Regions from separate parts of the Homo sapiens genome. Here region 2 is linked to region 1. Evidence: fine-mapped expression QTL. A gene starts in region 1. The other region holds a variant in brackets. All regions are shown on one strand. Distances are between the middles of the regions.

The links. PIP is the estimated chance that this variant, and not a neighbour inherited with it, causes the effect.
Region 2: its variant is the best candidate, but not a certain one, in a credible set for the expression of CCNB3 in testis (GTEx, PIP 0.82).

What each region holds. Positions count from the first base shown.
Region 1 is chrX:50,202,178-50,207,562 of GRCh38, reverse strand. It overlaps CCNB3 (cyclin B3), which reads right to left and starts at 2,798. Exons shown (of 13, transcript NM_033031.3): 1 at 2,613-2,798.
Region 2 is chrX:50,158,263-50,163,647 of GRCh38, reverse strand. No RefSeq gene overlaps it. Among named protein-coding and RNA genes, the nearest start is that of AKAP4, 40 kb to the left of the region's middle. The variant T/C (reference allele first, on the strand shown) is at 2,808.

The sequences.
Region 1 (5,385 bases):
GGGGCTAGCAATTCTTGAAGAACCATTACCACTTATTTTCAATTATGTAAATATCATTAGGCATTTGCTAATATATATGAACCTGTGCTACCCTTAGCAGGGTAAGTGAAAATGGGCAAAACACAGTCATTCTCTTCAAGAAGTCCTGTTTTTGGAAAGATAAAGCTCATAATGAAACAAATACACCACAAGGCAGAATGTGATATGTGAATTTATAAATTCACTAGGTGAATGTAAAACTGTTGAGAATTTCAGAAGACACAAATGATTGAGTCCACTCTTATAATCAACACCATCACTATTGTCATAATCATCTCAACATCACCAAGAGTTACTGAGTGTCTAAGCACATGAGCCACTGCTAGGTTGTACACAGAGACAGTTACTGCCTTCCTTGAACCTATACATATCTTCATAATGGAAATATTAAGGAAATGTATCAATAAATACGACATACACAAAAATGCAGTTTTTAGGATGGGGAGTGATTCTGTCAAGAGAAATCACCAATTTCCCTTTTAATTGGAGGAACACCTTCTCAAGACGGCTTTTTTACGGGGTGTTCTCCTACTGCATGGGAATACGTTTTCCAACAGCTGCGACCTCCTAGTGACCACATGAAGTCATTACCCCGATTCATCATCCTGACTTGAGAGCAAGAGGCACAGGAGGCTGGAGTGCAGTTGGCGAGATCACTCCTCATTACAGCATCAACCTCCCATGCTCAAGCGATCCTCCCACCTCAGCCTCCGGAGTAACTGGGACTACAGGCACGCGCCACCACACCCAGCTAATTTTTTTTTTCTTTTGGTAGAAATGGAGGTTTTGCTCTGTTGCCCAGGCTGGTCTCAAACTCAGACTCTTGCCTTCAAGCAATACTCCCACCTCAGCCTCTCAAAGTGCTGGAATTACAAGAGTGAGCCACCGTGCCCAGCTGTCATAAAGTAATACTATATTTCATTTTTATTATTTTTTCTTTTGAGACAGTCTTGCTCTGTCGTCCTGGCTGGAGTGCAGTGGCATGATCTCGGCTCACTGCAACCTCCCACTCCCAGGCTCAAGTGATCCTCCCACCTCAGCCTCCCGAGTAACTGGGACTACAGGCGGGCACCACAACACACTGCTAATTTTATTTTATTTCATTTATTTTTTGGTAGAGACGGAAGTTTTGCTATGTTGCCCAGGCTGGTCTCAAAGTCCTGCCCTCAAGCTTTCTTCCCGCCTCAGCCTCCGAAGGTGCTGGTATTACAGGAGTGAGCCGCAGCGCCCAGCTGTTACCAAGTAATAGTATATTTTATTTATTTATTTATTTATTTATTTTGAGATGGAATCTCGCTCTGTCGCCAGGCTGGAGTGCAGTGGCGCCATCCCGGCTCACTGCAACCTCTGTCTCCCGGGCTCAAGTGATTTTCCTGCCTCAGCCTCCCAAGTAGCTATAGACGCATGCCACCATGTCCCGCTAGTTTTTGCATTTTTAGTAGAGACGGGGTTTCACCTTGTTGGCCAGGATGGTCTCGATCTTTTGATCTCGTGATCCGCCTGCCTCAGCCTCCCAAAGTGCTGGCACTACAGGCGTGAGCTACCGTGCCCAGCTATTTAATTTTTTTTTCTTTTGAGACAAGAGTCTCACTCTGTCGTTCAGGCTGGAGTGCAGTGGCACGATCTCGTCTCACTACAACCTCTGCCTCCTGGACTCAAGTGATTCTCCTGCCTTAGCCTCCCAAGTAGCTACAGACGCATGCCACCATGCCCAGCTAATTTTTGTATTGTTAATAGAGACGGGGTTTCACCATGTTGGCCAGGATGGTCTCGATCTCTTGACCTCGTGATCCGCCTGCCTCAGCCTCCCAAAGTGCTGGGATTACAGGCGTGAGCCACTGCGCCTGGCTATTTAATTCTTTTTCTTTTGAGACAAGAGTCTTACTCTGTCGCCCAGGCTGGAGTGCAGTGGCGCCATCTTGGCTCACTGCAACCTTTGCCTCCCAGTTCAAGCCATCCTCCTGCCGCAGCCACTGCACCCAGCTGTAATGTTTAATACATTCATTCACTGATACACTATCTGCAGGGCAGGATAAACATTTTGTCACCAAGTAACTGTATATTTAAGTTTTTTTTTTCTTTTGAGACAGAGTCTTGCTCTGTCACCCAGGATGGAGTGCAGTGGCACCATCTTGGCTCACTGCAACTCTGCCTCCCAGTTTCAAGCGATTCTTCCGCCTCAGCCTCCCGAGTAGCTGGGACTACAGGCGCGCGCTACCACGCCCGGCTAATTTTTGTCTTTTTAGTAGAGACGGGGTTTCGCCATGGTGGTCAAGCTGGTCTCGAATTCCTGAGCTCAGGTGATCTGCCCGCCCCGGCCTCCCAAAGTGCTGGGATTACAGGCGTGAGCCACCACGGTCAGCCTGAAGTACTTTTTAAAGGTTATTTTTTCAGATGTTCCAGAAAAGTTTGTTGGTTTGACAGGGAGGAAATAAACTAATTAAAGGCTAGTTCCCTCAGCCAGTTTTCCTCCCACATCTCCAGCCTGACACAGGATATACTTCTATATTTATAATATATAATCAATATATAAGGCAAAAAGCTCTCGTCACGACTGACAATACATGTTGTACCTTTAACAAGCCACAAATGGACTGGAAGAAAAGCTATTAGCAGAATGTTCTCCACCTATCGGAAACTGAAAGAAAACAATACAAAAATAAACCAATCAAAATGTAGATGAGGAACAGAGAGAGAGAGAGAGAGAGGCGACCAACCGCCTCAGCCCAACTGTCTCAGAATGACGGAAATGCTTCCACAGAAATGCACCTCAGAACAACTGGTACGAGAGGCGGCCGGATTGACCCCACCATTCTCACCAGCAGGGGGAGATCACGAATCAGCGCTTTTTTTTTTTTTTTTTTTAGTCAGACTTAAAACCACCAGATGGGGCCAGAAGATCAGAGTAAATACCTTTCTACTTTTCTTTTTCTCAGGGAATTTCTCTTCTATCTCCAGACCCTGAAAGAAATAAAAGGCATGCTAATCACCACACACACACACGCGCGCGCCCCGCCACCCCCACCCCCAAGACGATGGAAGTGGCCAGTGCTGCCAAGCACCCCCACCAGTCACGTGGCCTCTGCGCTCCAGCGAGTCATTTATAATTAAAGTGGTAGGCATTTCATAAGGCTGTGCGTGAATTGAGATAATGCATGTAATACACAGTACCAGGCAAATTCTCAGTCCCCACTCCAGACCCGTAGAATGAGAAACTGAAGCCCTCCAGGTGATTCTGATGCACGCCAAAGTGTGACAATTACTGCTCTGGGAAAGAAGCCTGCCCACTCAGATAGCTAACCAAGTTTTTTGGTCATTTTTACAGATCCCATGACGCTGTGATTTCTGAATTATGTTTTCTGCCCTAAAAATTCCAAAACCTTGTGTCTTGAGCCCACCTGTGTGCCCAGTATTGTGGTGGATGCAATGAAAAAGAGATAGATAACCTTCTAGGCTTGCAATGTAGGTAATCTAGGAATAGGAAAAGGTAATTAACTCTACAAGGCCAGATTTAGTAAATGTCAGATGAATTATCCTGACAATAAGCAAATGTTCTAGGAAATCAGGGGAAGGAAATTTCATAATTATAAAAGGGAAGAGCCTGACCAGAAATAGCCACTGCCAAGCCAAGCCCACCCCTCAAAATTAGCCATAAGTCATTTTCTACCGCAAGGTTATGGAACAGAACTTTAGCTGCCTAATTAAGCCCCTGCCTATAAAAGAACCCCTAACATTCCTAAGACTCCACTTATCTTTAGCAGTTGCCCCCTGAAATTTTTTTATGATAATGTTTATAGACTTTAAAAGTCCTTTATTTTCCCCCTCCACTCCTCCAATCACTCATAGGAAAGAAAAAATATGTACAATGCAGACAAAACACAAACACTTGACAGAAGTAATTATACAGTTCCACTGCCAAGATGTTCAAAATGACTAATTTTTCACTTTAGTATGGTTGCATGAAGCTGCTCTAAATGTCATTGTGTACTCTCATGGCAGGAAAACCAAATCAGGAGAAAAAGAAGTGGTGTTCCCAATTATATTGGTCCACAGTAAATGATGTCTGATAATCATTGGCATCACTGCCCATTTTCTAAATGGTCATTGTGTCATCACATAAAAGGTAGGCTAAATCTGAGGCTGGAAGACACCCAGCAAGACTACCAGACAGACAGTGATTTCATGAAGGCTGATGGTTCACTTCATTTAATTTCCTTTTGCCATTATTCATGATAATTATATTATAAACGCAGGTCCCATTTTTATTATCTTCATAGTTTTTTCTAGCCAAATGCAAACCGAGAGTGTATTTAAAGTATTGATTTGCACTCTTATTCACAAGTTTGTGTGAAAGAGAAGAAGTTTGGGTAGAATAAACAAGGTTACAAAATAGATGATGGTGCTTAGAAAAAAAATGATGACCAAGGCTTTTGTGTTTAATATCTCAATATTTGGCTATTAAAGGCAAACCTAAGTGCAGACTATTCACACACCTTCACACACTAATACAATATATTCCTTACTTTGACTATTTGAATATCCCTTATCCCTCACCTGCCCTCCACCCCCTCTACTCAGTACAGACCAATTTGAGAGCCTCGAGAAGAGAAGGAAGAGGCAGTAAATGTACCGTGACCTATGACTGAGCCAGGTCTGCCTTGATTCTTCCCTTACATTTTGCTCATTGGTTTCACATCCAAATGCTGCCCTTACCTGCTCCTGGTTAGCCTCCAGGATGACAGGATTCAGGTGCCCTGGGAGAGTGCTCTAATCATCCATAGTAGTTCTCTCTTTGTCATCTGGGGATTACTAAGACATTTTCCAGGCATGAATCATGGTTGTTCCTTTCCGGGCTGGGAGACACAGAGTTTTTGTTTTTGTTTTTGTTTTGTTTTATTTTTAATCTCTTAGAGATATGATTTCTTGTGCTTGGAGAATAGGTAAACATTTTCTTCCTTTGCTTCATATTCCACAGAGATGAGCCAGACACAGGAGCTCCAACTTTGTCTTTAATCATCAAAAGTTGCCCCTTGACAAAAGGATGGTATAGGAAAAGCAACAAAGACCCTCTTCATGATCAAACTTTAGTCAGGCTTCTCTAAGCCCACTTCTCAGCTAGGCCTCAACTTTGGCCTATAAGAACTGCAACTTTCGGCACAATTTCATCCACCTGCCCCCCAATACATACACACACTAAGAGACTTGAACAAACACCAGCGTAGTTTCTATCAGCTCAAGGCCATTTCCCTAGGATGACAATCTCAGCCCTTTTAAAATGCCTTCCTGAGACAGTTCAAAGCTGCCAAAAGGCCATTTCCCTAGTATGACAATCCTAGCCCCCCTTAA
Region 2 (5,385 bases), 44 kb after region 1:
GCGTGGGCTTGGCGGGCCCGGCCCTCAGAGCAGCCGGCCAGCCTGCTGGCCCCGGGCAATGAGGGACTTAGCACCCGGGCCAGCGGCTGCGGAGGGTGTACTGGGTCCCCCAGCAGTGCCGGCCCACCGGCGCTGTGCTCGATTTCTCGCCGGGCCTTAGCTGCCTTCCCGCGCGGCAGGGCTTGGGACCTGCAGCCCGCCATGGCTGAGCCTCCCACCCACTCCGTGGGTTCCTGTGCAGCCCGAGCCTCCCCGACGAGCACTGCCCCCTGCTCCACTGCGCCCAGTCCCATTGACCACCCAAGGGCTGAGGAGTGTGCGCACGGCACCGGGACTGGCAGGCAGCTCCACCTGCAGCCCCGGTGCAGGATCCACTGGGTGAAGCCAGCTGGGCTCCTGAGTCTGGTGGGGCCTTGGAGGACCTTTATGTCTAGCTCAGGGATTGTAAATACACCAATTGGCACTCTGTATCTAGCTCAAGGTTTGTAAACACACCAATCAGCACCCTGTGTTTAGCTCAAGGTTTGTGAGTGCACCAATTGACACTCTGTATCTAGCTGCTCTGGTGGGGCCTTGGAGAACCTTTATGTCTAGCTCAGGGATGGTAAACACACCAATCAACACCCTGTGTTTAGCTCAAGGTTTGTGAATACACCAATCGGCACTCTGTATCTAGCTCAAGGTTTGTAAACACACCAATCAGCACCCTGTGTTTAGCTCAAGGTTTGTGAGTGCACCAATCGACACTCTGTATCTAGCTGCTCTGGTGGGGCCTTGGAGAACCTTTATGTCTAGCTCAGGGATTGTAAATACACCAATCGGCACTCTGTATCTAGCTCAAGGTTTGTAAACATACCAATCAACACCCTGTGTTTAGCTCAAGGTTTGTGAATGCACCAATCGACACTCTGTATCTAGCTGCTCTGGTGGGGCCTTGGAGAACCTGTGTGTCCAAACTCTGTATCTAACTAATCTGATGGGGACGTGGAGAACCTTTGTATCTAGCTCAGGGATTGTAAACGCACCAATCAGCGCCCTGTCAAAACAGGCCACTCAGCTCTACCAATCAGCAGGATGTGGGTGGGGCCAGATAAGAGAATAAAAGCAGGCTGCCGGAGCCAGCAGTGGCAACCCGCTGAGGTCCCCTTCCACACTGTAGAGGCTTTGTTCTTTTGCTCTTTGCAGTAAATCTTGCTGCTGCTCACTCTTTGGGTCCACACTGCTTTTATGAGCTGTAACACTCACCGCGAAAGTCTGCAGCTTCACTCCTGAAGCCAGCAAGACCACGAGCCCACCGGGAAGAACGAACAACTCCAGACGCGCTGCCTTAAGAGCTGTAACACTCACCGCGAAGGTCTGCAGCTTCACTCCTGAGCCAGCGAGACCACAAACCCACCAGAAGGAAGAAACTCCGAACGCATCCGAACATCAGAAGGAACAAACTCTAGACGTGCCACCTTAAGAGCTGTAACACTCACCGCGAGGGTCCGCGGCTTCATTCTTGAAGTCAGTGAGACCAAGAACCCACCAATTCCGGACACAAGAGGACGGTGTTCAGTGAGCTTCCAGAGGGCTGAACACATGGAGGTTCCTGGAGGGTGGCATGTCTAGGGAGGGGAGGGAAGCTCCACACCCTTTCCTCCATAGCTCACCCTGTACTCTCTTCATCTGTATCCTTTGCAATATCTTTTATAATAAACCGGTAAATGTGTTTCCCTAAGTTTTATGAGCCACTCCAGCAAATTAATCAAATGAAAGAGGGGATCATGGGAACCCCAACTTGAAGCCGGTAGGTAGGCCAGAAGTTCTGGAGGCCCAGACTTGCAACTGGTGTGGGGAGGGCAGTCTTGGGGACTGATCCCCCAACCTGTAGGATCTGACACTATCTTTTTGGAGAATCAGAGGATACCCAGCTGGTGTCCACTGTTGGTGTGTGGGGAAACCTCCCTCTACATTTGGTCACAGAAGTTTTCTGTGTTGATGATTTTGGTGGTGGTGAGAGTAGAGGAAGAACACAGTTTGTGGAGAGTTTTTCCTTACGTAACTCCCAATAAATAGATGTTACCACAAGCTAAACTTCTCTTTCAAAGGGAAAATGGTCCCAAGGGGCAGAAGTAATTTGAACTTTTTGATTGCTATAGGAATCCAGTTGGATTCCAAATAAGTTACAGTTTTATTAGAGAAATTGATGAAGTCTTATTTCATGTTGTTGCCTTTTCCTGGTAACTTTTTTTGTTGTTGTTCTGAAGCAGTCTTACGATGTCTGCATGAATGAGTCATTTTTTGCCATGTGGTTTTTTGTTGAGATCTACTCATAACATGGAACAGCTCAGCTGTAATGAGTCCATTCTTTCCGAGGCTCCATATGACCTCTTCAATGGTCTTCAAACAGTTTTAGAGGAACAGCTGATAAATTTCTGTTTTATTGTCATCCTTTTCTCCATTTTTATTCTCAATGTATTTCCAAATTACAGAAGGACATTCTTCTCATACCGCACTTTGAAATTATGGTTTTATGGCAGGCTGACATTTTAACATTTTTTTTCCTATGGCTGGCAACAATGATAGATATTGTAGGCACCTGTTAAGGAGGCTATCTCCTCCCATTTCTATAAAGTAAAAAAAAACTCACTACATACTTCTGCATATTTTGAAGAAATTAAAAAGTCATCAAAAACTTTCATTATAAAACCTTTAATTTTATAGATAAGCAGAATGTATCTGTCTTTAGCAGGATTGTGTACAAGGTGTGCATGACATTTAGCAGGTAAGGTCTTTTCATTTATTTCAATAAAAAGTTTATAGAC[T/C]GAATGGAATTCCACACAATTGACATTTATGCTGTCTGCTAAACATACAGATAAATGAGAAAAGTCTCGTTTGTATTTTTTCATATTTTCTGTGGTTTTATTAATATCTTCATTGAAATCAAGAAGATAATATGAAACTTCATTTTTTTTTTTGAGATAGGGTCTCACCCTGTCACCCAGGCTGGGGGTGCAGTGGAGCATTCTCGGCTTACTGCAGCTTCTACCTTCCAGGCTCAATTGATCCTTCCCCTTTCACCTCTGTAGCTGGGACTACAGGCATGCGCCACCACGCCTGGTTAATTTTTCTATTTTTTGTTGAGACAGTGTCTCACTATGTTGGGTAGGCTGATCTCGAACTCGAACTCTCGGTCTCGAACTCCTGGGCTCAAGCAATTTTCCCACCTGTTATCTGCATTCTTACAAAACATGGTGTTATGGTTGAATTGTGTCCCCCAAAAAGTCATATGCTGAAACCTTAGCCCCAAGTATCTCAGAATGTGACAGTATTCGGAAATAGGGCCTTTAAAGAGGTGATTACGTTAAAATGTGGCTATTAGGGTGGGCCCTAATTTAATCTGTCCAGTGTCCTTATACAAAGAGGAAATTTCCACACACAGAGACACCAGGGATTCACAAGCACAAAGGAAAGACCTGTGAGGACACAGAAGGAAGGTTGCCATCTGCAAGCCAAGGAGAGAAGCCTCAGAAAAAACCAAACCTGCTGGCACCTTGGTCTTGGATTGTCAGCTTCCAGAACTGTGAGAAAATACATTTCTGTTGTTTAAGCCACCTAGTCTGTGGTATTCTGTTATGGTAGCCCTAGCAAACTAATGCACATGGTCACAATATTCATGATGTGAAAGGTTAAACAACCTTGATACAAATTACAACAGTTGATCCACAGGCAAATACAAAGGCGAGCTTGTTAATGCTCACAATTTCAATGCACTTAAGTTGCATGCTAAAGTGGCATCAGTCACCGTGATGCAACAATGGATGATCATTATTGTGAGCTGCAAATCATGGTTGTCAATATCAGCAGTTGGGGCAAAAAAAATGGCCACAGCAACTACAGAAGGCAGAGAATCTATGCCATATCCATTTCACATTACAAACTGCTGTTTTCACTCCCTATTTGGGCGGGGGGGGCGGGTCACCATATGGGTTTTGTGCTTTTCCCCCAATCTTCTGTACCCATCACAGAAAATTGAGACTTTTCACATCCCAGGGAGGAGTTTCCTTGGGATTTGAGCCTTTCTGTGCTAAAAGTGGAACAGTCCAAGGCAAACCAAGACACCTGGCCGTCTGCAGTGGTGCTCCTGGGATGCTGCAGACAATGTTCTATTTCTTGCCTGGGTGATGGTTACATAGTGTTTACTTTATAACAACTTTTAGTTGTACATTTATACTTTATGCAATTTTGTGTATGTGTATTGTTTTTCAGAATATGGATACTTTTTAAACATTTTTTAAAAATCTTTTGTAGACATGGGGTCTCACCATGTTGCCCAGGCTCAAGTAACTCCTGGGCTCAAGTGAGCCTCCTGCCTCAGTCTCCCAAAGGGCTGGAATTACGGACATGAGCCACCACACCTGGCCAGAATACATATACTTTAGAAAAAGTTATGCCCACCTCTTCCTACCCCATATGTAATTCAGAATAAAATGATATTGCACCATAAAATAGATGGAACAAAATTTAACCAACTTCTTATTTTCTCTTGTTTTATATATAATGTAAAGTTGATTTACATTTTTGTTTTACCCCAGCTTTGCTAATGCCCTAGGCATCTGACTATTTAGGCAACCCAGTACTGCCCTAGGTAAATGACACATTGAGTTACCAGATGCAACATTGGCAGTCCTTCTGGTGCCAGGCCCATGTGTCCTCTTCTTTTTTATGACTCTTCCAGGTAGAGTTAGTGGTTCCTTGCCACTGAACTGTGACCTAGTGCTGAACACAATGAATTGGAATTAGATGTTTATTGTGTGTCTCCCAACATCAGACAACTTTTTGTGAGAAAAATTGTACCTTGTTCCTTTCTGCACCATCAGCACTTTGTGGTTGGGACTTGGTAAACATTTGTTGAATGAATGATGGGCTTTTATTGGGGCTATCTATCAAAGTCAGCACTCCCTCACGACTTCCTTCTTACAACTGCATTTTAAGCCTGGTTATGTTGGCTAAATCCTGAGAAAATAAATTTCTGTTGTTTAAGCCACCTAGTCTGTGGTATTCTGTTAGGGTAGCCCAACAGAATGGGTCCAACTGACACCATTTGTTTTCTGAGCAGACCTGTTATCCTAGAATGTAGAGCTGGTACAAAATTCATTTCTTTAGGATGTATTTATTGACTGTCCACTGCATGCCCTGACCTACCCCTGGAGTACAAAGAGGCAAAAATCTAAATTGAAAGCATAATCAAATGCTGAATTTCTGGCAGGGAAAATTGGTCTAGGCGAGTTATTTACTAAACTGTCTGCATTTGATTGTTCCTGATAATTGTTGTTTGGCATCATCTTTTCTAGTTAAACATAGCTGAAATTTGAGAGTCTGGACAATGCCTGGGAACATTCG